Homo sapiens: one gene and its partner. The protein of the gene in region 1 purifies or fractionates together with the protein of each later gene. This does not show direct contact. Each region holds a gene or a part of one and is shown on either strand. Other genes may lie near its edges.

Region 1 (3,832 bases):
CTGCAGGGGAAGAAGAGTCAGGGTGAAGAGAGGCACTACAGTGGAGTGGAGACAGCCAGGAATGGGAGGTCTGGACTCCTTGGGAAGCACAACCTCTGCCACTGAGCTTCTTCAGGCCGGAGCCCCATGTCCACCTCCAGGGCTGCAGGACGCTTAAACCAGGCAGGGCCCACAATGTGAAGTGCTCAGAATTCAGTCAGGCACCCTGGGTTTGACACCTGGCTCTGCCACTTATTAATTTGTCTTTAGCAAGTAACTCAGCTTCATTCAACCTCCATTTCCTCATCTAAAATCAGAAATAATAGTACCTGCCTCACAGGGTACTTGCAAGCATAAAATGAGGTACTAATAATAAATATAAGCCCACAACAGAATGCCTGATATGTAGTAAGTGCTCAGGAAACATAATGCACATTATGTATTACATGAAAATGCTTTCTAATCAGAAGATATTATTACTTTTATGATCTTCAGAAACCAAATCTCTTAGCTTAGACTCATATGAAAGAAGCCTTTGGAAATCAAAAACTCTGATCTCTGGATTTCTGCCATGAGAGAGGTGTGTGGGGTGTATGTGTGTGTGTGTGTCTGTGTGTTATGTGGTGTGTGTGGTGTGTCAGTGTGTGTGGTGTGTCAGTGTGTGTGGTGTGTGGTGTGTCAGTGATGTGCAGCGTGTGTGTGCTGTGCTCTGTGAGAGTAGTGTGTGTATGGTATGTGGTGTGTGTGGCATATGTGTGGTATGTGTGTATGTGGTGTGTGTAGTGTGTGTGGTGAGTGTGTGATGTGTGTGGTGTGTGTAGTGTGTGTGGTACGGTGAGTGTGTGATGTGTCTGGTGTGTGGTGGGTGTGTGGTGTGTGTAGTGTGTGTGTAGTGTGTGATGTATGTGGTGTGTGTGGTGTGTGTATGGCGTGTGTGTGGTGTGTGTGGCATGTGTAGTGTGGTGCGTGTGGTGTGGTGTGTATGTGGCAGCGTTTGTAGTGTGTGTGGTGAGTGTGTAATGTGTGTGGTGTGTGTGTGGTGTGTGGTGTGTGTGGTGTGTGTAGTGTGTGTGCTGCATGTGGTGTGTGTGGTGTGTACTGTGTGTGGTGTGTGTGGCGTGTGTAGTATGTGTGGTGTGCAGTGTGTGATGTGTGGTGTGTGGTGGGTGTAATGTGTGTGGTGTGTGATGTGTGGTGTGTGTTGCATGTGTAGTGTGTGTGGTATGGGGGGTGGTGAATGTGTGTGCTGTTGGGGTGGGACGGAGGCAGACTGTCTAGACTCTTCCTCTACATCTGCCGCCACTTGAGCAAGCCATTTAACTTCTTTGAGCTGTAGGCTTCCTTCGGAAAGCAGGAGTGAAAACACCTGATCCTCCTGAATCGAAGAGAACGGACCAGAATATCTCATGGAAGACCTTTCCCCTCAATCTATCATCCTATGAATTTCTTCATCTTGAAAGCAAGAGCTTTGTGCTTGGGCATATGTATATGTCCTGCCATCCAAGATGCTTTGTTATAACTGCTATTTTGAGAGGAGCTGGAGACCTACCTCCTCTAATTTTGCTGCAGAGCCAGCCTTGCCTGATCCCTGCTGCCACCAGGTGGTTACACGCCATCCCTAAGAGACGCTCTAAATTGTAAATACGATCCTGTCACTGCTCTGTTCAGACATTTCAGGGGCTGCCCAGCAACCACTAGACGTAATCCTCAGTAACAAGTCCAAGCTTCAGGTCACAGATCTGGCCCTGTCAATCATACCAGCTTTGCCTCTTGCCACTTGGTGCTAGGGGCAAAACCAGGGGAGTTGTCCTCTCTCCGCCCCACCGTCACTTTCCTGCAAGATTGCATCTCAAGATTTTCCTTCTCCGGATGTGCTGCTCAGTACACATCCTCAAATGTGATGTCCTTTCATCCTTCCAGCAATCCTCAATATTTCAATCTCCAATTCATGGAGTTAACTGGAGGCTTAAAGAAGTTAAGTGAACTGCTCAAGGTCACAAAATTAAGAAATTATAAAACAGGAACAAAAATCCTGTTTCAGGTCTAGAACTCCCTGGAGCCATTGATAATTTTCTTTTAAAAATTTGTGGCCGGGTACATTGGCTCACGCCTGTAATCCCAGCACCTTGGGAGGCCAAGGCGGGCAGATCACTTGAGGTCAGGAGTTCGAGACCAGCCTGACTAACACAGTGAAACCCCGTCTCTACTACAAATATAAAAATTAGCCGGGCATGGTGGTGTGCGCCTCTAGTCCCAGGTACTTGGGAGGCTGAGGCAAAAGAATCGCTTGAACCTGGGTGGTGGAGGTTACAGTGAGCTGAGATCGCACCACTGCACTCCAGCCTGAGTAACAAAGCGAGATTCCATCTCGAAAAAAATATGTATAAAAATAAAATTTTGTATGATAAAAGCAATGTATGCTCCTTATAATAATTTATAAATGATATAAAACTATTATTTCAATTCAATTCAATACAGAAAATCTTTAGCTGCTGATCACAGCTATAAACGAGATGAGGAGGGTCCCTGTCCTCTTGGTGTTTCCAGTCTCCCAAAGAAGACAGACATGAAACAATGATGGTTACAGTTCAAGATGGAGGTACTATCTGAGCTTATGGCAAGGGGTTTTAATCTCATCCAAAGGGCCAAGGAATGCCTCTTTAAAGAAGAGAGAACAAATAAAAATCATTCATAATTCCATCACCTATAAATAACACTTTGATTTGGTGCTATTTTCTTTCAGTCTTTTCACTTGTACTTTCTTCAAATTCTTCCCTTGACCCCCAGGACACTACTCTCTGGATGCTCATTCTTCATAAAATGTGTCCCCTTCTATCCTAGAATTCCACGCCTCAGTATGTTTTCTGGAACATTGTTTACATGTGATATTAACATGCGGCATGGAGAAGGAGTCCCTAAAAAAGCAAGTTTAGGAATCACTGAGTTAGGATTAAGTAATCTTTCTAAGGGCAGCACTTTCAGAGCTCCTACAATGCTGTTGAGCACTGGGAACTTCTGACAGCGGGGTGTGGTATTCATGCTCTCATTTGCTAAATGAATCGGATTTGTTATTTTTAAGAGGCATCTTGAAGGAACACACTTTAGGAAATGCTCTATGGCCCTGGGCATACTTAGGAGGTCTAGAGCTCATAACAGATCCCCACCACTTAAGAGTGTGAAGCTCGGACTCTGGATTTAGTGTAGGCAGCACACTGCAGACAGTCAGGACTTTTTTAGTTGTCAGAGTCCAGCTTTGAGCTCTAGGCCTTGTTTAGGGTGGGGAACATGGGGTTTCCTAGTCCAATGAGTCAGCGCTATCCTCCCCCAGTTCCCTGATGCAAACCGTGTGCACTGGAAGCTGCTGGGATGAACCAGTGCAGGTCTTGTGCCACAGGACCTTCTTTGATTCCGAGTTGGGGCTCCCAAGCCCCTTTTCCTTCGGAAAGGGACTAGTAATTTCTGATATCCGGAGAAAACTAATGTTTCCGCTGCAGTGGCGACACCTTGTGGTCAGAAAGGGGAATGCACAGGACGGTCATACGCTTCCCACCTTCCTCTGCTCCAGCTGTGGAGAGATTCCCCTCAAGAGAACCTCCTGTCTCACCAAGACGCTAATGTCACGTTGACAAGACCTAACGTTTCCGCATCCCCCCAACCCCTACCCAATCCTGTAGCTTGTCGACAAGCCCCTGCTGCCACCTCTCTCTCACAAAGGGCCCTCACGATCCTCCTTGGACTGGTCCCCACCCTTCACAACCGCCTCCCCTTAAGTGCTCCAGGCCCCAGAACTACCCCCTCCCCCACTTCCTTGATATCCAAATTCCTGTTTCTTCAGTGCATGAAACTCAGCTTC
Region 2 (3,832 bases), about 160 Mb from region 1:
CCTTCCCTCTGTGGTTTGCCATCAGGGTTCCAGGGGGACTGAAGACCTTCCCATGGCTGTATTCTGTATCAACTGACTCAGGGAGCTCCAAGAGGGGGCAAATTTCCCCAAGTTAGGACTCCACGTTGTTGGCTGATGCAATGGAGAATAAATTAATGAGCTGAGGAGACAAAGACCTACTATAAACGCTCAGGAGAATGACCTGACCTCGTCACATCCAAATAGTGGGCAGAATGGTGACATTTTCGCGTGCCCAGGGCTCAGGATGAGAGCTGCTATAGCCTTGCGGCACCTAGCAGAATTTGCCTTAAAACTAAAACTGGTTGTTAGAATGATCCATGGAGGTCTGCTTTCTCTCCCAGAACCCCATGACCTTGGGCCTCTACTTCTCCCAGACCATTAACACCCTCTGCTGGAAAGGCCCAAGACCTTGGGAGCCAAGTGCCCCAGCCCACACTCCTGCTGGCTCACATGCCAGCACAGCGGTAACACACGGCTGGGAATGAAGCGCTTTCTTTTTTAAGTGGCTAATTGCATCCTTTCATAAATAAAGATGAGAAAAACCCTGGGCAGACTCTCATTCCAGCTGCTTGGTGTGCTGTGCCTCATTAACTCGAGCCCTTGCTGTACTCGGAGAGGTGGTTGTGTGCTTTACCTCAATGGACTGGGATATGTGCATTTTATTAATTTCAATCTGCGGAAAGCTACTGCCGGACACATCTTCATACTCCTCATCATAGCGATCAAAAAGGTCGGTGGCATCTACTCCAACGCTGATCGTTCCCTGGGGCAGAAAAACAAGCCGTCAGCAGAACGGGTGGTATTTGTGGAATGAAAGACAATGCTACACTTCAACAGCCAGCTCGCTTTAATTGAACAAGTCATTTGACTTCAGGGTTCACTGGGTTTAGGTAGGACACTCCACCAGGAAGCCCACAAAGCATGAATGTCACAGTCCGAACCAAACTGCAGAGCACCACAGACGTCCAGAGCTAGAAAACATCATTTGACCAGGAGAGCCGGTCCGCATGTCTGCAGAGCAATGACACGCCAAAGACAAAAGTGTTAGTCAAAGGAGTAAGAGCTAGACAGTTTGATTTTCAGAGACCAAACAGGACCCAAGAATGCACAAAACCACCTAGAAATGAGCTACATGGATTAAACATTTTTTGGTAAACAACCTTATACCACAAAACTACCCTAAAACTCTTTAAATAAAAATACCTTCAAAGATAAAGCAGCACAAATTATGAACAAATGGGAGACTTTAAAATTAATCCACCTTCTCAAATTAATGAGAATTAAGTTTGAGAAACAGAACACTGTATTTGCTCAAGGAATTCTAAGCTAAAATTTTGCTGATAAAAATGCTTGTTACTCAGAAAATCAATGTTTATTATTCTTTGATAGTCACAACTTTAAAAACGGACATTATCTTAATCCAGTATATAAAACCATGGCCACACACATTTTTTTAACTAAACTTTTTGCAGCCCATTGAAACAATGTTTTTTTGCTAGCTTTTCTTTTTTTTTTTTTTTTGAGATGGAGTCTCGCTCTGTCACCAGGCAACATTAGCCATTAGTCCAGTGCAGTGCAGTGGCACGATCTTGGCTCACTGCAACCTCCGCCTCCTGGGTTCAAGCGATTCTCCTGCCTTAGTCTCCCGAGTAGCTGGGACTACAGGCGCACGCCACCATGCCCAGTTAATTTTTGTATTTTTAGTAGAGACAGGGTTTCACCATGTTGACCAGGATGGTCTCGATCTCTTGACCTCATGATCCACTCGCCTCGGCCTCCCAAAGTGCTGAGATTACAGGTGTGAGCCACCGCGCCCAGCTGGTGCTAGCTTTCTATCAGATGCTTCAATCTGAAAATGCATTAACCCTAATAATTACTTGATTTCTGTTGAGGGTGAAACACCTGACATTATGAATGCTACTATAAACTCAATCAAAAAGTTCCACATTAAAGGTAAACGTGTTTGTTTTTGCGGTGATATTCAAATACCAACTTGGAGGCAGTATAGTGTTATGGTAAAAAATTTTCTTATTAAATCAAGAAACCCATGGACTAGAAACATCCTTAGAATTAGTTGTAGTGATACGCATAATGCATAATTGTGTCAAAACAAGCTGTGGTATTCTACCCATGGAAAATGAAGTTGTAGTTGCCAAAATTTACAAATTTTTTATATTCACAGAGTAACAGCATGAACACATCTCTGTCATGATGATGATTCTGAATAATCAACAAAACTGCATGGCAGTATATGAACAATCTGTGGCCAGGTGTGGTGGCTAATACCCGTAATCCCAACACTTTGGGAGGCTGAGGGAGTGGGATCACCTGAGGTCAGGAGTTCGAGACCAGCCTGGCCAACGTGGTAGAAACCCTGTTGCTACTAAAAATACAAAAATTAGCCAGGTACACGTCCCAGCTACTCTAGAGGCTGAGGCAGGAGAACTGCTTGAACCTGAAAGGTGGAGGTTTCAGTGAGCCAAGATTGCGCCACTGCACTCCAGCATGGGTGACAGAGCAAGACTCTGTCTCAAAAACAAGAACAGGCCGGGTGTGGTGGCTCATGCCTGTAATCCCAGCACTTTGGGAGGCCGAGGCAGGCGGCTCACGAAGTCAGGAGTTTGAGACCAACATGACCAACATGGTGAAACCCCATCTCTACTAAAAATACAAAAATTAGCCGGGCGTGGTGGTGCGCACCTATAATCCCAGCTCCTCAGGAGGCTGAGGCAGGAGAATTGCTTCAACTTGTGAGGCAGAGGTTGCAGTGAGCCAAGATTGTGCCACTGCACTCCAGCCTGGGCAACAGAACAAGACTCCGTCTAAAAAAAAAAAAAAAAAAAAAATTACAATCACTGAAAATAAAGCTTGTAATGAAAAATAATCTGAAGCTGATCTTTTTAGGGGGAAAAAAACCATACAAAATAAATAAGAGTTTATGAGATATAATGAGATACAATTTTGAAATTCCATAACGGCATTTTGGAGTATCTTTATTTTGTGTAGGAATCTTGGTGGAGCTGTCATGTTTAATTAGGTAAATTTATATTCTGTTCAAGAATGAAATGGAATTGAAAAGGTCTACAGTTTTATAGCATCTAAATTTGATAAAACATTCAAAAGATCATAAATAAAGATGATTTAGAAAAATGTGTCAAAGAAAACTGTTGTGAATAAAGTTAAAAAGACAATACCTGTCAAAATACTTGGGCCAAGATATTTTTATGTTCTAATATGAAGAAATTTAGAATTGAGAGAATATTTTCTAAATTAAAAATATGATATACAGAGATGAATCAATTAAATGTGTCAAAAATTTCAGCTGAGTGCTGTGGCTCACTCCTGCAATCCCAGTACTTTGGGAGGCTGAGGTGGAGGGATTGCTTGAGCCCAGGAGTTCGAGACCAGCCTAGGCAACATGTTGAGACTCTGTCTCCACAAAAAAAACTAAAACCAAAAAAAAAAAAAAAAAGTTTAGCTGGGAGTGGTGGTATCCGCCTGTGGTCCCAGTCACCTAGGAGACTGGGAGGATTCCACTGGGAGGTGGGAGGATTCCTTGAGCCCAGGAGGCCAAGGCTGCAGTGAGCTGTGACTGTATCACTGCACTCTAGCCTGGGTGATAGTATGAGACCCTATCTCAAAGTAAAATATAACTTGCTAAATATAAATGCAACTTTCATAAAGATGGTAGGCAATGTTATAAAAGAAAAAGACACAGGAAATACACTCTTCAAAAAATAGTGTGACACACTGTGGAAGTCAGATCAAAGGCCTCCTAAGGAACCATGCCTGCGGGTACTCACACCCTTGT

What was found.
Region 2: the proteins of GPA33 (region 1) and DNAJC11 purify together in Homo sapiens (affinity purification with mass spectrometry; one large-scale study listed by BioGRID and IntAct). This does not show direct contact.

The regions. Positions count from the first base shown.
Region 1 is NC_000001.11:167,055,850-167,059,681, forward strand, and holds part of GPA33 (cell surface A33 antigen precursor), read right to left. Parts: intron 2,579-3,832; exon of another isoform or gene 2,458-2,578; intron 1-2,457. UniProt on the Homo sapiens protein: May play a role in cell-cell recognition and signaling.
Region 2 is NC_000001.11:6,653,256-6,657,087, forward strand, and holds part of DNAJC11 (dnaJ homolog subfamily C member 11), read right to left. Parts: intron 785-3,832; coding exon 656-784; intron 1-655.